4 separate regions of the Homo sapiens genome follow, and regions 2, 3 and 4 are each linked to region 1. The links come from fine-mapping of genetic effects on gene expression. A gene starts in region 1. Each other region holds a variant in brackets. All regions are shown on one strand. Distances are between the middles of the regions. Region 1 holds the start of HK3 (hexokinase 3). Region 2 has its middle 11 kb from the start of FGFR4. Region 3 has its middle 7.0 kb from the start of UIMC1. Region 4 overlaps ZNF346 (zinc finger protein 346).

What was found. PIP is the estimated chance that this variant, and not a neighbour inherited with it, causes the effect.
Region 2: its variant is the best candidate, but not a certain one, in a credible set for the expression of HK3 in whole blood (TOPMed, PIP 0.53).
Region 3: its variant is the best candidate, but not a certain one, in a credible set for the expression of HK3 in whole blood (TOPMed, PIP 0.73).
Region 4: its variant is the best candidate, but not a certain one, in a credible set for the expression of HK3 in macrophages (Alasoo 2018, PIP 0.66).

Annotation. Positions count from the first base shown.
Region 1 is chr5:176,896,533-176,902,052 of GRCh38, forward strand. HK3 (hexokinase 3) reads right to left here and starts at 2,814. Exons shown (of 19, transcript NM_002115.3): 1 at 2,735-2,814. RefSeq lists an enhancer at 3,634-4,135.
Region 2 is chr5:177,072,762-177,078,308 of GRCh38, forward strand. It overlaps a transcript of ZNF346 not described here. Among named protein-coding and RNA genes, the nearest start is that of FGFR4, 11 kb to the right of the region's middle. The variant A/G (reference allele first, on the strand shown) is at 2,857.
Region 3 is chr5:177,011,031-177,016,577 of GRCh38, forward strand. It overlaps a transcript of UIMC1 not described here. Among named protein-coding and RNA genes, the nearest start is that of UIMC1, 7.0 kb to the left of the region's middle. The variant A/C (reference allele first, on the strand shown) is at 2,319.
Region 4 is chr5:177,063,885-177,069,387 of GRCh38, forward strand. ZNF346 (zinc finger protein 346) reads left to right here. Exons shown (of 7, transcript NM_012279.4): 7 at 628-4,101. The coding sequence ends at 715. Among named protein-coding and RNA genes, the nearest start is that of FGFR4, 20 kb to the right of the region's middle. The variant T/TG (reference allele first, on the strand shown) is at 1,997.

The DNA.
Region 1 (5,520 bases):
ACAATCACAGTATGATTAGCACAGGCAGTGAGCAAGATGGCCACATGTAATAGATGGACATGCTGCTGTGGTTGGGAGGTCAGGGACATGCTAGAGGCTTGGAACAAAGAGGGAACCAAAGACCTGCCAGAGAAGCAGGCAGGCTGGAAAAGGGACAGCCATTGTGCCAGGCTAAGGCACATGAATTTCATCCTGAAGGCAACAGGGGTCATGGACAGGGGTGGATCTGTGCTTCAGAAAGGGGTTCCACTAGTGACCTGACCTTGGACGTCATTTATGACTTCTTTGAATTTCAGCTTCCATCCATAAAACAGGAGGAAATAATATCTACCCTCACAAGGTTGTTGTGAGCACTAAATAGAATAACACCTGGGGAAATGCTTTATGAGATGTAGTGTGCAACATAAACATCAGGTGGGTTTTAACAGTGAAGTGATGCAGAGCAGAAAGAGCCCTGTACTCAGAGGTGGGAACCCTGCTCTCCACAAGGCAGCTGCACCCCATCTCAACCTCCAGGCTTTTCATCTGTGAAATGGGACCAACATGTATCAAAGGGTTGTGTGGGGCAAATGAGATCACGAGAGCAAAGGAACTTGCTCAGATGTGCATTCAGATTTATGTAGTTGAATCTGAACTGAAACTCTATGATTCTCCATTTCCTCTATAACATGAAAAGCTCAGTTCTTGTGAGGATTAAAGGAGTTAGTGGTCCTTTGCACACTGTAAGGAACTGTAGAAATGTCAGATACTTCGCTCATCCGAGCTGGAGGTGGTATTGCTGTTTCCATAGTCCCAAGGGAGCCCTCAGTGAGTCAGGTGCTCTTTAGGGGTGGGGGAAAAGGGAAACACAGCAGAGGGCCCAATATGGGAAGAGACATCTGTCCACTGAGTCACTTTACCTCCCTTCCTTGCAACAGCAGAACTTCTGGAAATATAGTACCTTCCCACCCCTACACTCCCCTCCTTGCCTACTCCCACTATGCTCACTAATTTGCCCTCCACGTGGTCACTGGTGACCTCCTAACTGCCCAATCCCAAGCCTTTTCCTCAGTCCCCACCTCTGCTGCCCTCTCTCAGGCATGCAAAGCCAGTAGTCATTCTCTTTGCTACAGAATTCCCCCTGTCCTTGGCTTTCACGGCCAGTCTCTCCTAGGTCTCCTTCCTGAGTCTCTCGTAGTCTTCATCAGTAATTTCTGTTCCTTCAGACAATGGGGTTCCCAAGTTTCGGTCATGCCCTCCCTCTACACTCCCTTTATCTCGCCCATTCCCAAGGTTTCATTAATAGCTGTGTCAGGGCTCCCAAATCTACCTTTGGCCTCAGCCAAATCCTAAATCCCAGTGGTCTGTTAGACATCACTATCTGGATGGTGGAGAAGCTCCTCAAATTCAACAAAGCCATACTCATTTTTCCATCACCTTACCCCCACAAAGCTCTTCTGTTCTCCACCTTGACTGGAGACATCGAAGTGTGCTCACTCACACGGCCGTTCGGGCTGCCTGCGCGCATCCCTCACCCTCACCTCCTCTATGCAATTGGATCTCAGGCTCTCTAAGAGCTCTCCTCTGCATCCCCTCCTCCCCATTCCCACACACTGCACCAGACCATCCTCCGGCCTGATTATTACAACAGCCTCCTAAACTGATAGCTCTGCTTCTAGTTTCTTCACCTCCTTACCCCACCCAACTTGATCACCTCTGCACTCATGGCCGGCACAGGGTCTGGTATAGGTATGTGCTAATGTGCCTTTCCAAAATTGGAAGCAAGGGGAGTGGGTAGTTTTTTATTTAATAAAGCAACAAATCAGCTTCTGATAAATCTCCCCAAACCATACATACCTATGCTGAGTTTCCAAATCTGTCAAATAGGGGTGTGGAATTCTTGTTCTATGCTGCAGGTCTATTTCAAGGATAAAATGAGGTAACTGGGGCAATTACCTTCGAAAAGGACTAAGGGCTACACACGTGTCTTTCTCAAGGCCCAGCTAGTTCATTTATTCATTCACTCACTCATTCATTCCCTCATCCATTCAATATTTATTCAGCATTTTTACATGACAGAATCTGTGAAGCAATCCCCAAGTAGCCCTAATATTTATATGCTAGGTAAATGTATTCAGCTCTGTCTCTTCCCACTGAGATTCCCTGTGGGGAGGGACATGTCTCCTTCACTGCAGTATCCCCAGAGCCCAGGGTCTGTTTGCCTAAGGGCCCCGTGGCTTCCCTTAGCTGAATGGGCTACACGAAGTGAGTTTTCCTCCTGAAAAGTACCCCAGGGACCTCTACTGATGTTGGGAGCTGCCATCGAGAACCAGCTGGCAGGCTGGGTGTGGTGGCTTGCACCTGTAATCCCAGCACTTTGGGAGGCTGAGGCAGACAGACTGCTTGAGCCCAGGAATGTGAGACTAGCCTGGGCAACATGGCAAAACGCCATCGCTAGAAAAAAATAACAAAAATTAGCTGGGTGTGGTGGTGTGCGCCTGTAGTCTCAGCTACTCCGGAGGCTGAGGTGGGAGGATCACTTGAACCCAGGAGGTCAAGGCTGGAGTGAGCCCTGACTGTGCCACTGTACTCCAGTCTGGGTGATAGAGAGAGAGACCCCATCTCAAAAACAAAGAAAGAGAACCAGCTGGCTTAATCTTTCCAGTGTCCACTTCCCCTGGTGTGAGCCAAACAGGAGGGATGAGGACAAGACAGCTGTGGAAGGAGCAGGCAGTAATTAGACCGAAGTGCTTACCTGGGACACAGAGAAGCTAGTCACTCTCCTCAGGTCTGAGCTCTTGTCTGGCAATATGAGGCACCCCAATGACCAAAAGCAACACTCAGGGGTGACCCGAGTTATAATATCCTCAAGCCCCACCCTTTTCCTCCACCACCACTTACCAAACATCAGCTAATTCAGGAAGCTGCACTTCCTTCCAAGCCTGCCCTAAGAGTAGCCCAGGCTAGGCAAGGCTGTGGTGAAAACTTGAGCAAGATGATTACCGCGAAGTGGAGCGTTGAACTGGGTCTAAGATTTTGGGCCATTCCCTCTACAATGCTGAGGGCTGTTTATTTTGCAAATATAGTGAGTTCTGAGGTGGTGGCTCGCCCCTAGAAGGAGCTGGAGGCGCCTAGCCTGGAAAGGTTATGGTAAGTACTTTTGAGCAAGAGGCAATGTGGGAGCACAAGCGGAAGGGACTGACTCTGCCGAGAGTGGGCAGGGCTAGCTGAAGAAGCTGAGTCTTGAAGAAAGAACAGCAGTATGCTGACAAAAGTGGTCCTTGACAAAGTGGAGAGCATGTGCACAACCACAAATCACACACACACAGCAATGAGGTGCAGCTCCAGGCGCCTGAAGAGGGTACACCAAGGTAGGAATATATAGTGGGAGAGGAGGTGACAGGCAGACTGCGGAGTCTAGCCTTTAGTCTGTAGCCTGCGCAGGGAGAGTAGGTTCACATCTTAGGTCTTCTCTACTGGAAGAAGGGGAGTGTTAGGCTGCTGTGGAGCTATTGGCGAACAAGCTGTTTTTCTGTGGGAATTTCTCCTCAAAGGCACAGAACCTTGGGGCACCAATGTAGAATACTAGACAGCCTGCAACAATCTTTGTTGAAGGCATGGATACACTTTAAAGCTTCAGGCTGCCTTGTCAGCAGTAACTCTATCCACAGATAGTAGGCCTCCACATGACATCAGGATGGAGACCAGAGATAGTGGCTCCTCTATCAGTAGTGGCATGAAGAGGCCAGGAAACATGCCAAACATCAGTCCTGCTGTGAAGTTTACTGGGTACCAACCAGGCATATAGGCTGTGAAAGGCAGGGAAGTGGGGGATGGGGTGGCAGAGGGTAGAGTGGCTGTCACAAACAACACAGCATCCTGCCTAGCCTGGGATCCCAGTCCCTTTCAACTTTGTTCAGTTGGGAGAGGAGAATGTGGAACTGACTATGAAAGGCCCAGCTGTGATTCATGCAGATAGCCTGCCATTTCTTGAGCCAGGGTGAGGATATGCCCCTGACAAGCATGGCCAGGGCTCTTCATCTGCGTTTCTGGAAGGTCTGTGTCCAGACCCCAGGAGCAGGGGTCCTGGTTCCCTAGTCAGAATGCCAGGGAAAGTCTGGGTCAAGGCCAGTGGAGGGAGAAGGATGGCTGAGCTTGAGGTCTGTGAGCAGCTGGGACAGCCTGGCTGTAGCAGAGGCACTGCAGCTGCCAGCGGTTCTCTTCAGACACCAGATGGCCACTGACCAACAAAGGGAAGGACAAGTCCTCACGAGGTTCCCTCATAGCCCCTTAGTGCCAATCTCCAACTGTAGAGATGGAGCTAAGGAATGAGGAAAGGCAGTTTGCTGGGGGAGAGGTGGGCACAACCAGAGCACTGCCGATGGGCTGGGAGGTCAGGCCTTCCCTCTGCGCTTGCTCACAGGCTTCTCACCACTCACAGTGCCCATGCCAGGCACAGAGATCCTCAATAAGCTCCCCCAATTTGTTCCACACCCTTTATACCGTGAATGTGCCTTGCAGCTCTCCTACACACATCGAGCTACTTCTGTTGTGTCTTTGTTTGCACTGACTTGTCTGGAATGACCCTCCCTTTGGCCTCTCCCACCTTTTCACCTCATTTTTCCTCATCCCTTAAATTATAATCATCAACGACAATGAGGAGCCCTTCTCTGAAAAGCTCCTCCTGGCCGACCCCAGCTGAGTGTGGTCTGCTTATTGGTTCCGTATTATGATGCATGTTCTTGTATCACTGCATTTATATCTGTTTATTAAAGGCATCTGTTTATGTGTTCTTCTTCCCCATTGTACTATGGGCTCCCAGAGAATGTTTCTTATTCACCCGTGCAGCCTCAGACCTCAGTTCTTTATCTGGCAAGGAACAAGTATCAATTAATTTTTGTTAAATTGAAGAGCCCTCCCACAATCTCAATAGTCCACGGCTGGCCAAGCATGATGGCTCACGCCTGTAATCCCAACACTTTGGGAAGCCGAGGTGGACGGATCACTTGAGGTCAGGAATTCATGATCAGCCTGGCCAATACAGTGAAACCCCGTCTCTACTAAAAATTAAAAAAATTAGCCGGGCGTGGTGGTGTGCACCTGTAATCCCAGCTACTCGGGAGGCTGAGGCAAGAGAATTGCTCGAACCTGGGAGGCAGGGTAAGTTGCAGTGAGCCGAGATCACGCCACTGTACTCCAGCCTGGGTGACAGAGCAAGACTGTCTCAAAAAAAAAAAAAAAAAAAAAAAAAGTCCAGGGCTTTTGAAACTGAGAGGAAGCAAGCAAGCTCTTACTGTCTTCCTGGTGCATATGGTTTCAGCAGTCTTTCCACTAGTCCATCTTTCCACTGACAACTACAACCCTCTCATCCACTTACTACCTGCCTTCCCCTCCCCAAATTCCCATCTGCTAACAACCTAAGGCCAAAGCTACCCTGATTCACAGGCAAAAATGAGCTCATCCAAACCTGAAATTTCCCTTGAGTCATTAGTTTTGTGACTGAAATGAGAAGTAGGAAGTAGTGTGCTATAGTACAGAAAG
Region 2 (5,547 bases), 180 kb after region 1:
TTGCTTGAACCCGTGAGGCGGAGGTTGCAGTGAGCCGAGATCACACCACTGTACTCCAGATAAGGAGAGACTCATTTCTGATGACTACCTGGATCCAGCTATGCCTGAAGCTAATATCCCCCAGGACTTTTTAGTTATGACTTTTCTTTAAGTCAGTTGAGTTTCTATAACTTGCAACCAAGATTTCTGCCTAATACTTGCTCCAGCTCCCCTTGTCAACCTGGGGACCTCCACTCATCCAGAGATCACTGGCCCCCAAGGCCAAGTTGGCTGCCCTTTGTGTTCCCAGATGCCCTGTGTTCCCCTCTAGCATAGCCCTTAATATGCTGTGTTACGATGATCTAATTCCCTGTCTCTTCTTTTAGACTAGAAACTGCTTGAGGGCAGGAATTGGGTCTTATGATACTGCATCCCTGGTCCCTAGCATAGGACTGTGCTTATGTTTTAATAACTGCTTGGTGATTGAATACATTAATGAATAAATGAATAAAAATGGGTATGGTCTGGTAGGGACCATTGCTGGGATTTCACAGGAAAGACATTTATTTTGTTTGTTTTTTGAAACAGCGTCTCACTCTGTCACACAGGCTGGAATGCAGTGGTGCAAACACAGCTCATTGCAGCCTCGACCTCACTGACTCAAGTGATCCTCCCACCTCAGCCTCCCGAGTAGCTGGGACTACAGGCGCACACCACCACACCCAGCTAATTATCTTATTTTTTGTAGACACAAGGTCCCACTGTGTTGCCCAGGCTGGTCTTGAACTCCTGAGCTCAAACGATCCTCCCACCTCGGCCTACCAGAGTGCTGGGATTGCAGACGTGAGCCACCGCACCTGGCCGGAAAGACTTATTGAGGGAGATGATCCTCTAGTGGTCATGAAGGTCAAAGGAGCCAGGTTGCTGGGGTGGGAGGAGGCTTAGTGAAAGGAACTAGAAGAGGCGAGTTGTGGAACACAGTTGATTGTTTCAATAATGGCCTCCCATGAATCATTGCCTCCCTGTGCCTGTGTCCTTTTGCAATGTGACTTTATCATTGCTCCCATCAAGATCGGGCGGGCGGGGGAGGGGGGGGGTCCATTTCCCAGTCTCTTGAATCTGAACTAGTCTTGTGAGTTGCTTTGATCAGAGAATTCAGTAACATGACTGTACGACTTCCAAGGTTAGGACTTAAGTGCTCATGCAGCTTCCGTTCCTGACCCTGTGAAAGGAAGTTTGGGCTAGACCATGTGGCGACCACAGACCAGGTAGAGAGAGAAGCCAACAGCCAGCTCCATACATGTGAGGGAGGACATCCCAGACCCTCTAGCATAGCCAATCCACAGCATAAGCAGAACTGCCACCTGAGCCCAGCTAATCACAGAATTGTGAGAAATAATACATTGTTTTAAATAATTAAGTTTGGGAACAGTTTGTGCAGTAAAGGCTCACAGAATCACTAGGTATAATAATCAGAAGCTTCCTAGTGTCTGTTTACCCTTCTTCCTATAATAAGCTTTTCTTTGAAAAACCCCACCCTCAGCTTATGTAGTCCGGGTGGGGAAGACCTCCACTCTCCTGGCTTTTGCCAGAACAGTTGAGAAGTTGCCAAGTGGGAATGTCTCGAGCCCAGAGCTGTTAGTGGCCTTCTTTGTCACTTCTTAGGGAGCACCTGTCATAGAGAAGAAGACAGAAGAGAGAATGAGTTTTGACCATACTGTTGGGAACCAGGATCAAGCTGTTTCTGGAGCCTGATTCACACCAGGACTTACAGTCATGCTCCTGTAGTCCCAGCTACTCAGGAGACTAAGGCAGGAGAATTTCTTAGGCCCAGGAGTTCACATCCAGCCTGGGCAGCACAACAGACCTCATCTCTTTAAAAAGTGCATGAGCCAGTACATTCACTATTTTGTGTAAGCAGGTTTGAATTTGAGTTTCTGTGTCTTGCAACTGAATGAAAACGTTCGCTGAGAGCCAGAAAAATTGATAGAGGCTGAGCAGCTCCAGGGCAGAGGGCAGTTAGGTCAGACAGAGGAGGGATTCCTGGCCGGGCAAGTTGGCTCACACCTGTAATCCCAGCACTTTGGGAGGCCGAGGCGGGCGGATCACGAGGTCAGGAGAACGAGACCATCCTGGCTAACACGGTGAAACCCGTCTCTACTAAAAATACAAAAATTTAGCCGGGCATGGTGGTGGGCATCTGTAGTCCCAGCTACTCGGGAGGCTGAGGCAGGTGAATGGCATGAACCCAGGAGGCGAAGCTTGCAGTGAGCCGAGATCGCGCCAGTGCACTCCAACCTGGGCGACAGAGCAAGACTCCCTCCGTCTCAAAAAAAAAAGAATTTTTTTTAAATAAAAATAAAATATATCTACATTTTGGCCGGGCATGGTGGCTCACGCCTGTAATCCCAGCATTTTGGGAGGCCAAAGCAGGTGGATCATGAGATCAGGAGTTCAAGACCAGCCTGGACAACATGGTGAAACCCCGTCTCTATTAAAAATACAAAAAAAAACTAGCCGGGCATGGTGGTGGGTGCCTGTAATCCCAGCTACTCATGAGGCTGAGGCGGGAAAATGGCTTGATCCCAGGAGGCAGAGGTTGCAGTGAGCCGAGATGAGTAACACTGTACCCCGGCCTGGGCGACAGAGCCAGACACCGTCTCAAAAAACAAACAAACAAAAAAATCTACACTTTTTAATACTCCTCCCTTCAATAGGTCAAGTTTAATTTCTACCCTATATCCCCTAATATGGGCTGTAAGTAGCAATTCACTTTACTTACTGATTGATTGATTGACTCAAGGTCTTGCTGTGTCCCCCAGGCTGGAGTGCATGGCACAATCATAGGTCACTGCAGCCTCGATCTCCTGGGCTCAA[A/G]CAGTCCTCCCACCTCAGCCTCCTGAGTAGCTGGAACTACAGGCATGCGCCACTGTGCCTGGCTAATTTTTTTTTCCTTTTTTTTTGAGACAGAGTTTCTCTCTTGTCGCCCAGGCTAGAGTGCAGTGGTGCAATCTCGGCTCACTGCAAACTCTGCCTCCTGGGTTCAAACGATTCTCCTGTCTCAGCCTCCCAATTAGCTGGAATTACAGGCACCCGCCACCACGCCCAGCTAATTTTTGTACTTTTAATAGATACAGGGTTTCACCAGGTTGACCAGGCTGATCTCGAACTCCCAACCTCAGGCGATTGACCTGCCTCAGCCTCCCAAAGTGCTGGGATTACAGGCGTGAGCCACCACGCCCGTCTGGCTAATATTTTTTATTAGGGTCTCACTCCGTTGCCCAGGCTGGTCTCAAACTCCTAGGCTCAAGGAATCCTCCTCGCTCAGCCTCCTGAAGTGCTGGGATTATAGGCGTGAGCCACTGTGCCTGGCTGTGACTCACTTTTAACTAATAGAATAAGACAGAAGTGACAAGAATCTGATGTCTGAGAGTAAGTTATACATTACATTGCAGCTTCAATATTTCTCTCTTGGATCACCAGCTCTGAGGGAAACCAGCTAACGTGTTGTGGGAACACTCAAGCAGCCCTATCAAGAGGCTGTTGTTGAGAGAAATGTAGGTCTTCTACCAATGACAAAGATTCTTTGGTTGGCCAAATTTTAGTCAGGCTTCTGAGCCTTCTCCTAGGTCCATCTGTGCACTTCCTTGTAAAATCTAGTTTTAGCAAAGAACCTGCTAAGTCTAGTTTAGCAAGAACTGCCGCCCATCTTCGATATCTGATCAGGTTCCTCCTCCTCCACCATCCCCCAGGTGATGGCTGATGGGCCTGTCTTCAGCAAGAATCCTGTTGGGTCAGTTTGGACAGAACCCCTTTACCCCAACGTTTCCTCTTAGTCATTTTCCATTCACTGCTCCCCACTCTGTTCCTTGGCTCAGAATTCCCACTCGCCCATGCTGTATTCAGAATGGAGCCCAATCTCTCTCCCCCTCTGCAAGATCCCATTGCAGTGGTCCCTGTGACTATCTCAATGGTCCTGAATAAAGTTTTCTTTACTGTGCTTTAATAAGTATCGTTGAGCCGGGCGTGGTGGCTCACGCCTGTAATCCCAGCAGTTTGGGAGGCTGAGGTGGGTGGATCATTTGAGGTCAGGAGTTTGAGACCATCCTGGCCAATATGGTGAAACCCCGTCTCTACTAAAAATACAAAAATTAGCTGGGCATGGTGACAGGTGCCTGTAATCCCAGCTACTTGGGAGGCTGAGGCTGGAGAATCGCTTGAACCCAGGAGGCGGAGGTTGCAGTGAGCCGAGATCACGCCACTGTACTCCAGCTTGGGCGACAGAGCGAGACTCTCAAGAAAAATAAATAAATAAACATAAAAACAAGTATCTTTGAATAATTTTTTCTTTAACACCAATAGTCAGCCAAATATTTGTTATGTAAAGTCGTTAAGTTTAAAAGTAATGTGTTATGAAGCAATGGATAACTAATACAGGTCTTTTTCCTAAAAGCCATGGAAATTTATTAAAAGGTTTTAAACAAATAGCAGTGAAAACAGGATGAATTTGCTGCCATGTAAACAAATGAGTACTATGGCCAAAGAGCCAACAGAGGAGAGTGGAGACACAAAGGAAGGGTGTTCTACTGAGAAGGAGCCTTTTATTTATAAAGGGTTTAAGAAAAAGGATTAGCCGAAGAAAAAATTATTTGGTTCACATAGTGAAATGTTCAAAGAAGGAATGGCTTCAGGCAAGGCTTGATCCGGGTGCACTCCAGCTCTTGGCCCTCTTGTTTCCTTTATTGCTGTCTTTCACAGAGAAGCTCTCCCAAGCAACTCTAGGCATCCCTATTCACAGCTCAGCTTCTCAGAGAGTTGGTTTCCTATTCATTCCAATAAAAGACCTAGACTGGCTCCCATTGGCCCTCCCATGGTCACATGCTCATCTCTGACTTAATCACAATGGCCTGGGAGATGGAATATTCTCCTTAGCCAGGTCTGGGTCACATGTCCACCATAAATGCCAAGGAGGAGTGTTGGTTTCATCCAGTCCCCCGTGGACTGCTAGTAGGGGAGGACCACGACATCAAGAAAAGTTTGAGGGGTCGTTACCAGAGAGAGGAAAAGGGTTTTAATGTCCAGTTTAGGGTGGCCAGGAGGGATCTGAAAGAAAAAGGAATGCCTGGCCAGGCGCGGTGGCTCACGCCTGTAATCCCAGCACTTTGGGAGGCCGAGGCAGGTGGATCACCTGAGGTCAGGAGCTCGAGCCCAGCCTGGTCAACATGGTGAAACCCCATCTCTACTAAAAATATAAAAATTAGCTGGGCATGGTGGTGAGTGCCTGTAATCCCAGCTACTCGGGTGGCTGAGGCAGGAAAATTGCTTGAACCCGGGAGGTGGAGGTTGCAGTGAGCTGAGATTGCACCACTGCACTCCAGCCTGGGCAACAGAGCAAGACTCCATCTCAAAAAAAGAAAAGAAAAGAAAAGGGAATGCCTGAGAGGAGTCCAGAAATACCTGCTGAATGGCAGGTATCTGGTAGAATGCCTGGAAAGCGGGGAGGACAGATAGGCAGGCCAGAGGAAGAATGCTCAGCAACAAAGGCAGCATAAGCAAAGACGCCACGGT
Region 3 (5,547 bases), 110 kb after region 1:
AAAAATACAAAAATTAGCTGGACTTGGGCTTGCACCTGTAGTCCCAGCTACTCGGGAGGCTGAGGTGGGAGGATAGCTTGAGCCCGGGAGGCAGAGGTTGCAGTGAGCCACCAAGGTTGTTCCACTGCACTCCAGCCTGGGTGACAAAGCAAGACCCTGTCACAAAAAAAAAAAGAAGAAAAGAAAAAAAGAACCACTACTGTGTAATTAAAAATGAATAAACTATAAGCTGGGCACAGTGATACATACCAGTAGTCCCAGCTACTCAGGAGACTGAGGTGAGAGGATTACTTGAGCCCAGGAGTTCAAGGATGTAGTACACTATAATCATGCCTGTGAATAGCCACTATACTCCAGCCTGGGCAACATAGTGAGACTACATCTCTATAAAAACATTTAAAATTTAGCTGGCTATGGTGGTGTGCACCTATAATCCCAGCTACTCAGGAGGCTAAGATGGGAGGATCCCTTGACCCCAGGAGTTCCAGGCTGCAGTGAGCTATGATTGAGCCACTGTACTCCAGCCTAGGCAATAGAGTGAGACCTTGTCTTTAAAAAAGTAATAATAATAATAATAATAATAAACTCTTAGAAGAAAACATATGGGAAAATCTTCATGACCTTAGATTTGGCAATAATATATTGAATATGACATCAAAAGCACAGGCAACACGGTGAAAAGAGTTCTGGAGATGTGTTGCGGGAAGTCAGGGACCCCAAACGGAGGGACCGGCTGGAGCCGTGGCAGAGGAACATAAATTGTGAAGATTTAATTTTTTTTTTTTTTTGAGACGGAATCTCGCTCTGTTGCCCAGGCTGGAGTGCAGTGGCACAATCTCAGCTCACCGCAAGCTCTGCCTCCTGGGTTCACACCATTCTCCTTCCTCAGCCTCCCGAGTAGCTAGGATTACAGGCGCCCGCCACCACGCCCAGCTAATTTTTTGTATTTTTAGTAGAGATGGGATTTCACCGTGTTAGACAGGATAGTCTCGATCTCCTGACCTCATGATCCGCCCGTCTTGGCCTCCCAAAGTGCTGGGATTACTGGCGTGAGCCACCGCACCCTGCTAGGGAGATTTTCTACATCCTGGTGACTGGCATCCAAATCTGTTTTTCCTGTCCTGGTTCCTAGCATCGAATCTCAATTGCCTACTTGACTTTTCCACCTGTTATGTCCCACATAAAGTTAAAACCCAGAACATTCACAACCAAATTTATGATCTTCCCCTCAAAATCTGTATATTTAACACATTATTTGTCTCTCTTAGTGACATTACTATCCACTCTCCCTCAAGCTATAAGCCTCCTAGACCACCACCACAAAGCCCCTCTCCCCACAGATTCAATGGGTCATGGAGTCTTACTGACTTCGAAACTGACTTCAGGGCCAGGCGCAGTGTCTCACACCTGCAATCCCGGCACTTTGGGAGGCTGGGTGGATCACTTGAGGCCAGGGGTTCGTGACCAGCCTGGCCAACATGGAGAAATGTTGTCTCTACTAAAAATACGAAAACTAGCCAGGCGCGGTGGCAGGCACCTGTAATCCCAACTACTCGGGAGGCTGAGGCAAGAGAATCACTTGAACCCAGGAGGTGGAGGTTGCAATGAGCTGAGATCGCGCCACTGCACTCCAGCCTGGGTGACAGAGCTAGACCCTGTCTAAAAAAAAGAACCCAAAAACCACACAAAAAGAAACCACACTGAATCAATGAAAAAAATAAATTATTCCATAATGATATTCAAAAAAGTAAAAACTCATTTGTGCCCATTCAAAGTAGATGTTTAAACAAGCTCTTACCTTAAAAATCAGTAAGGCAGGAGGATTACTTATGGCCAGGAGTTCCAGACCAGCCTGGGCAACATTGTGAGACCCCCATCTCTACAAAAAATGAATAATAAAACTAGCCAGGCTTGGTAGTATGTGCCTATAGTCCTAGCTACTTTGGAGGCTCAGGCAGGAGGATTGCTTGAGCCATGGAGTTTAAGGCTGCAATGAGCTATGATCTTACTATTGCACTCTAGCCTGGGTGACAGACGGAGATCTTGTATCAAAAAAAAAAAAAGGGCCAGGCACAGTGGTTCATGCCTATAATCTTAGCACTTTGGGAGGCTGGGTGGATCAGCTGAGGTCAGGAGTTCGAGACCAGCCTGGCCCACATGGCTCTACTAAAAATACATAAATTAGCCGGGCTTGGTGGTGCACATCTGTAATCCCAGCTACTTGGAAGGCTGAGGCAGGAGAATCGCTTGAACTCAGGAGGCGGAGGTTGCAGTGAGCTGAGATCATGCCACAGCACTCTAGCCTGGACAACAGAGCA[A/C]GACTGCATCCAAACACACACACACACACACACACACACACACACACACACACAAAGATACTTTCTGATCATAAGAGAGGAAACTTATTTACATAATGGAAGGTTTAAACTACCATTACCCTAATCCGGTGGTCAATTTAGCTTCACTTGGCGAATTAATCAGATATGATGTTATTATGTTCTTCAGATGCTACACAACATGAATCATGCAACATCTCCAAAGACGTATTCTAGCCAAAATATTTGACTTAAATACACCAAGTGTTTAGATATAACTTCCAGTTAAAGGAAACACAGCCAATAGAGATACAAGCTAAAAACCACAAGGAAAAAAGCAACCAATGCTTCTCAAACTACAGCACTTACACTATGATTTATTACAGCCAAAGGATACAAAGCAAAATCAGCACCTGGGATGAAGTCCAAAGGAAACTGGGCACAAGTTTCAAGAGTACCTTCCCAGTGGAGTCACTTAATTCCTCCAGCATCTAATTGTGACAACATTTGTGAAGTGGTATCTACCAGGGAAACTTGCCTGAGCCTAGGAATCCAGGGTTTTATCAGGGGTCAGTTACACAGGCTGCCTAGCTTACCACTCTGCCTAGTGCAAACCAAAGTTTCACACTCCCAGAAGGAAAGTAGATGTTCAGCATAAACTATATTGTTTGCACAAACAGTTTAGACTCAGTGAGCCACTTTTTTTCTTTTCTTTTTTTTTTTTTTTTTTTTGAGACAGAGTTTCGCTCTTGTTGCCCAAGTTAGAGTGCAATCTCAGCTCACTGCAACCTCCACCTCCCCGGTTCAAGCGATTCTCCTGCCTCAGCCTCCCAAGTAGCTGGGATTACAGGCGTGCAACACCATGCCCGGCTGATTTTTTGTATTTTTAGTAGAGACAGGGTTTCACTATGTTGGCCTGGCTGGTCTCGAACTCCTGATCTCAGGCAATCCACCTACCTCGGCCTCCCAAAGTGCTAGGATTATAGGCATGAGCCACTGTGCCCAGCTGCAGTGAGCCACTTTTATATGGAATTTGGAAACACTTCTGAAATCCAAGTTCCCAGATGCCAGCCAAAAGCCAAACTTGAGAGCAGACCTTTCAAAGGTCTACTATAGCCTCAAACCTACTATGTTAATTCTTTTCTGCACAATATGTAATGCTGTGGTTGAAACTTGGGGTGGAAGTTGAATGAGTTTGTCAAATGGACAACAGGAGATGGTAGAAGGACATTAAAGGTAATATTGGAAGGCTGAGGCAGGAGAATCGCTTGAACCTGGGAGGGCAGAGGTTGCAGTGAGGTGAAATCACAGTACTTCACTCCAGCCTGGGTGAAAGAGCGTTAACTCCATCTCAATAAATAAATAAATAAATAAAGGCAATGGGAATAGAATGAATAAAGGCAAAGGGGTGTGAAAGGATTCCCCAGTTGGAGAACCTACCACAGTGCTAAAGTTCATCCAGCAGGGCTTGGTACTTGAGAGAGTATTGGAAGTGGGTGGAAAAGGAAGTAGAATATACTGGGTCTCTTATACCACGTGACATTTTAACTTTATCCGGTAAGCAACAAGAAGCCATTGAAGTACTGCAGGTAAGAAAGGAGTATAGACCAGGCACGGTGGCTCATGCCTGTAATCCCAGCACTTTGGGAGGCCAAGGAGAACAGATCACCTGAGGTCAGGAGTTTGAGACCGGCCTGACAAACATGGTGAAACCTCATCTCTACTAAAAATACATCAGTATGTTAAATTATCAGAAAAATATAGCTTTTGGAATAAACTACATAGCTACCATTTACTATGTGCCAAGCAATGTGCTAAGTAGTTTACGGAGATTATATTAGTTAATCTTCACAACAACCATTTGAGGTGGGTATCATCTCCTCATTTTACAGATGGAGAAGCAGCCTCACAAATGTTAAGGAATTTACCTAAGATCACATAACTCATGCATGCAGAATGGAGCAATACATGTCAAGCTAAGTACCACACAGCGTTAACTGCTCAATTCTCAGAGATTTGTGGTTAATCCCCAGCCTGCTTGCCTCAGACATTGTCAGGGTTCAAGATATGACGGCTATCTGTTGCAGCTGGACTCTCTTCCTGATATGGCTCTGGACATACATCCCTCCAGCTCCAAGGGTGGCCCAGCGGGGCATGTAGAGTGGCTGGAATTCCCAAACTGTCACTGCAGTGATGAGGAGGAGCAACCTTATCTGTTTACTCTAACATGCTATACAGATATGCTCATTTTCTATGTGGACTATAATGGAGAAAAGGCTGGAAAGCATTACTTGACTCTAACCCAAAATCCTCTGTAAATCCCAGTCTGTGATCAACAGACTCCCCTCTGCCCTCAATCTGTCCTTAGAAAGTCTCTAAATTAAAACCTGGCATCCCCTGAAGACACTGCTTCCCTGCGTCCCTAAAGATACCATAAAATTAGGCCAGGCATGGTGGCTCACACTTGTAATCCCAGCACTTTGGGAGGCTGAGACAGGCAGATCACTTGAGGTCAAGAGTTCGAGACCAGTTTGGCCAACATGGTGAAACCCTGTCTCTACCTAAAATTAAAAAATTAGCCAGACGTGGTGGCGCACATCTGTAATCCCAGCTACTCAGGCAGCTGAGACAGAATCACTTGAACCCGGGAGGCTGAGGGTGCAGTGAGCCGAGACCACGCTACCACATTCCAGTCTGGGCAACAGAAGAAGACTCCATCTCAAAAAAGAAAAAAAGAGGCAGGACGCGGTGGCTCATGCCCATAATCCCACCACTTTGGGAGGCCAAGGTGGGGGGATCACCTGAGGACAGGAGTTTAAGACCAGCCTGACCAACATGGTGAAACCCCGTCTCTACTAAAAATACAAAATTAGCCAGGCATGGTGGCTGGTGCCTGTAATCCCAGCTACTCAGGAGGTTGAGGCAGGAGAATCGCTTGAACCTGGGAGGCAGAGGTTGCAGTGAGCCGAGATCATGTAATTGCCCTCCAACCTGGATGACAGAGCAAGACTCCATCTCAAAAACAAAACAAAACCAAACAAACAAAATACTATAAAATTATCCAGGCTGGGCACGGTGGCTCATGCCTGTAATTCCAGAACTTTGGGAGGCCGAGGCGGGCGGATCACGAGGTCAAAAGATCGAGACCATCCTGGCCAACATGGTGAAACGCCCCTCTACTAAAAATACAAAAAAATTAGCTGGGTGTGGTGGCACGCACCTCTAGTCCCAG
Region 4 (5,503 bases), 170 kb after region 1:
GAGATCCTGTCTCAAAATTTTAAAAAAGCCTCTAATTCTGTAAGAATAAAGCTATAATTTGTTGAATACCTGATTGAGTCTCATTAAATTTCTCAACAAAAGGTCTGAAATTAGGATACCCCCTCCCAAACCCATCTTTTACAACCAAAGAAAGCCTAATTATCAGATAGGTTAATTGACTTCCCCAAGGTCACTTAGTTACTTGCAGTTAGACCTGGGATTCAAGCCTGTTTGACTTCGAAGCCCATTCATTTTACTCTGCCACTACCAAATGGAATGAGTTTTTATAGGGCCCTGTAGGCAGTGGTTTGGTATAGTGAAAAGGCATTGGCTACAGTCCTGAACCTACCACCTAAAAACATACTTCGGGCCAGCCACTTAAGCTTTCTGAACTTTAGTTTCCTTGTATGTAAAATGAGGGTGCTGTTTCTCACCTTGCAGAATTGCCATGAGGATGGAATGATGGAAGCTAAGCATCCAGCATTCTGCCAGCCCACAGTGGACCTCAGTGAAGGAAAGGTGTCCTGTCTATTACTCCAAGGCCCTGGAAGGGCAGTGCTATCATTGCAGTAGGCCAATACAGCTGCCACACACTGACCCTCTTCCTTTGTTCCTTCTCAAATACAGGTCACCAAAAACAGTGGCATCATCCCTGGGCCAGATTCCAATGCAAAGGCAACCCATTCAGAAAGACTCAACCACCTTGGAAGACTAGAGGTGATTCTGCCCAGCATCCCATATTGGGCCAGCCATGAGCCAGCTTCCCGTGACTGCTCAGCCCTTGGCTCCCTCTTGCTCGTTGTTCTCACCAGGAAAGTACACGGGCCTGAGGCAGGATTGGGCCACAGACAGCCTCTCATTGGTCCGGGCTAATTCACTCCTGCTGCTCCCCTTTGGCAGGGGTCCTGTAGGTCATGACAGGGGAGGCAAGGGTATTGAGAGACTCGGGGTCTCGCGGGGTGGTAGTTTGGAGGGTGGCTTTCCCCATTTCCCAACCCCTCTGGGCCTTAGGTGCTGAGGCCCCTGCCACCTGTCTTTCCTCTAAAGGTCAGTTTTGGGCCAGTTCTTGCAACTAAAGAGCAGAGATCTCTCTGGGCCCTAGACATTTCCAGCAAAACCTGGAACTTTCATGCCAAACCTGGGGCAGGGCAGGAAACAGAGGAAATGGCTGCAACATGGGAGCTTGGAGCTAATACGACACTCTGCCTTCCCCCAGAAGGTGCAGGCTTTCCTGAGTCTTAGACCAGATATGGCCAGTTGCGCAGGTTTCTGCCAACTGTGAAGTATCCTCCTGGAGCAGTGACACAATCTTGGCGGAGCATTGCTACCCCCGCTGCCCCCTCCACAGTTCCTGAATGGTGCTAAGGATCTGCAGCAGTTGGCAACGAGCTGGGGCTGGGGGCGGCCTCCATGTCCACTGAGATCATAGGACACTCCAATGGGGATGGGACCTTTCCCCTCCTCCATCAGAGGTGCTCTGACCCTAGGTTACACGGGAAAGTGCCCCACATGCAAGTCTCCCTGAGGGTTCTGCCCCTAAAGGCAGACTGCCTCATGCCCGCTAGCTGTGAGGTTCATTGCTACCCTCGGCCCTACTAGCCCTCTCTTCCCCCTTGTGCAGCGGACCACTTGCCCAGTTTGCTGTGGTGCTAGCCTTCCCCATCATCCACCGGGTGATTTCTGGGTCCCAGGGAAAGAAAGAGAGAGCTGATGCAGGTTTCTACAGTGAGGAACAGGCGTTTCCCAGGCCCCACACCCAGATTTCTCTATCTTTGCTGTGTTTTATGGCCTGGGACTGAGTCCACACGGATAGATTTTTCCTTGTAACCTTGAGACGAGAATTCCAAGGAGTGTCACCATCAGAGGCTTCTCTTCATTGTGTCAAAGAAGCCCCTAGCTGCTCTCGTGGCCTCCTTCCCCCACTCCCTATCCCTTCACCTGTGAAATGCCTTTGCTTTGCATATTGTGTGTGGATGTGTGTGTGTGTGTGTGTGTG[T/TG]TTGTGTGTATGTGTGTGCTTCTGTGTGTGCCTAATGCTCTGTCTCTTGGTCACTGAAGCATCCAAATAAAGAATTTCCCTCATGGGCCAGACTACAACTTAACAGACCTAGGGTTTTGAGCCATATTGCCATTGGATCTAGTATGTCTGTCTTGACCCCTCACCCCCACCCCATTCAGACCTCAGTAGTCCCCAGTAGTCACTTTAGGAGTTGGGACAGAGTCGAGCACCCTGTGAAAGTCTCCCTTGAGTTCAGGTGCCCTGAACTCAGTACAGCCTCATCTTCTCATCCACCACCTTCTCCTGCTTCTCCTGTCACATAGGGCCTCATGAAGGTCTTTAAAGGGTTTAAGCTGGGGATCTGCTTTATGTTTGAGAGAACTGTTCTGGCTGTTATGTAAAGGAGTGCAGGGAGGGGCAGGAAAGGAGACAAGGAGGCCAGTATGGACACTGTGTCCAGTATGGCTTTCCAGGCTAATCACTTAGGGCAGAGACCCAGCCTTATTCATCTCTACTTCCTGATGTCCATAGTGGTGTGTCATGAATTTTTATTGAATGAACAAATGAGGTGTATGAGGAGAGATGGTTTTCTCCTGCTCAGCTCTTACACAGTGATAGGTTTGTTCCATGGGACTTATCATAGGCCTGGTGATTCTTGAAAGAGCATTTTTCATGACTCAAAAATGAGCTGAGAAGGAGTGTTATGGCCAGGTGCGGCGTCATGCACCTATAGTCCCAGCTGCTCAGGAGGCTAAGGCAGAAAGACCATTCAAGCCCAGGAGTTCCAGCCTGAAGTATGCTGTGATCATGCCTGTGAATAACCACTGCACTCCAGCCAGGGCAACATAACAAGACTCTATCTAAAAAAAAAAAAAAATTATAAAAATAAATTTGAAGGCTGGGCGCCGTGGCTCACGCCTGTAATCCAAGCACTTTGAGAGGCCAAGGCAGGTGGATAACCTGAGGTCAGAAGTTCGAGACCAGCCTGGCCAACATGATGGCAAAACCCCGTCCCTATAAAAAATACGAAAATCAGCTGCGCCTGGTGGCACACATCTGTAGTCCCAGCTACTTGGGAGGCTGAGGCAAGAGAATTGCTTGAACCCGGGAGGCGGAGGGTCGCATTGAGCCAAGATCGTGCCACTGCACTCCAGCCTAGGTGACAGAGTGAGACTCCTGTCTCAAAATAAATAAATAATAAATTTTAAAAGAAGGTAGCCAGGTGTGGTGGTGCATTCCTGTAGTCCTGGCTACCTGGAAGGGTGAGGCAGGAGGATCGCTTTAACCATGAGTTCAAGGCAGCAGTGAGCTATGATTATGCCACTGTACTCCAGCCTGGACAACAGAGCAAGACCCTGTCTCTAAAAATAATAATTTTTAAAATTTAAAAAAAGAAAGGAATGTTATGGCCTCAAGAGCTCTTTGTCCATCCTTTACTGTAGACAGCCAGATTTGAGGAAGGGGCCCAGGCAGCCTCAGCTCCCATTCAGTGCCACTCAGCCCCTGCTCCTGGTCAGCTGTGAAAGGCTCTACACAGCCCCAAGGGAGGTTCTCAGCTTCCCATGATCAGACTGCCTCAGCAATTCCCCAGAGTCCTTCTAAGCCACCTAGTATGTCAGATTCAGCCCCATCTACCAAGCAAGGAAATGAAGGGCAGGGGGTGAGTGGGCTATCATACCGTGAGCCTCCGGCCTGCAAGACCACTTTGTAGTCCCTACCAGCTGTGTGGCCAGCCCTGTTGGTAAAGGGACCTAGAGATGAACACTTTCTTGCCCTTAGGGGTTCACACACAGTCAAAGATCATGATGACAATGATAAGAATGCCCAGGATGCAGGAGCTGACTCAGCCAAGGGCATGAAAAAGCTGGAGAGGTTGGAAAGCTAGCATTTCATCTGCATAACAACCTTTGAGCTAAGAGTTAATATTCCATATAGAGAAGGAGGCCAGGCAGGGTGGCTCACATCTGTAATCCCAGCACTTTGGGAGGCCAAGGCGGGTGTATCACTTGCGGCCGGGAGTTTAAGACCATCCTGGCCAACGTGGTGAAATCCCATCTCTACAAAAAATAAAAAATAAAATAAATAAAAACCATGGAGAGAAGGAACAAGGCTGAAAAAGGTATCATGATTTGCCCAAGGTCTTGCCTCTAAGAAATGACAAAATGGAGAGTAGAATCCAGTTCTCTAGACTTCCTCTGGAACCCTTTATGAGTGAGGACCAGAGTACCTCCCACATGGCCCCTGCAGCCTGCCTCACCCATCTCCTGTCAGTGCCATGGTCTCACAGGGTGAGCAGCCACTCAGGGCAGGGGCAGCACCCACAAAACAGATGAGACAAGGCTCAATGTTTATATTCCAAGTCCCTCCATTTTTCTCATAATTTTGTCCATTCCCATGATCCCAGTGTAGTAGACTCTAATTATTAAAGTGTTAGAAACCCAAATCAAAGCGATTAGCTAAAAAGGTAAATGTATTGATTCACTTAATGAAAAATCCACATACAATGATAGCTGGACCCAGACTCGGAGATGGTCTCATCAGGAAGAATTGTCTATCCCTCTGCTTTCCTCTGTGTGCCCTTTCTCAGGCAAGCTCTCTCCAAGAGGTGCCAAGGTGGCCACTGGCAGCCCCAGGCTTCTATCCTGATACGTTAGTAACAACAGTGGAAAGAACACCTTTCTCCACTAGTTCCAACAAAATATCTGGGATTGCCTCAACTGGTTTAGTCCTGTTCTCATCCCTGAATTAATCATTGTGGCTAGGGGAAAAGGCACTCTGATTTGGGGCCTGGGTCATGTGCCTAAAGCTGAGTCAGCTCCACCTAAAACATTGAGAGAGGGAGTGATACAACCCCAAAAGAAGAAGGTTGTAGGGCTCTTTCCAGATTAAGGGGGAATGGATGCAGGGGGAGGGGGACAAAAACAACTGTGCACTATACCCAGAAATTGTTTAACTGTTTCCTTTTTTTCTCTAACTTTTTGAGGTACACCATACATTCAGTAATGTGCACCAATTTTAGACTTCAGTTTGATGAATCCTCACTTACATGTATACATTGGGGCAGTCACCCTCCAGATCAAGATACAGAACATTGCCAGGTCCCTAAAACATTCCCTCATTTCCCCTCCTAGTCAGTATCCCCCAGAAGCAACCACTATTTTGACCTCGATCATTATAGATTAGTTTTGCTTGCTCTTGAGTTTTATAAAAATGGAATCATACATTTTGCACAATATTAGTTTGTGGAATTCACCCATGTTACTGTATGTCTCAGAAGTTCAGTTTTTTTTTTTCAGCCAGGCGCAGTGGCTCATGCCTGTAATCCCAGCTCTTTGGGAGGCCGAGGCGGGCGCATCACTTGAGGTCAGGAGTTCCAGACCAGCCTAGCCAACATGGTGAAACCCTGTCTCTACTAAAAATACAAAAATTAGCTGGTCGTGGTGGTGGATGCCTGTAATCTCAGCTGCTCGCTGAGGCAGGAGAATCGCTTGAACCTGGGAGGCGGAG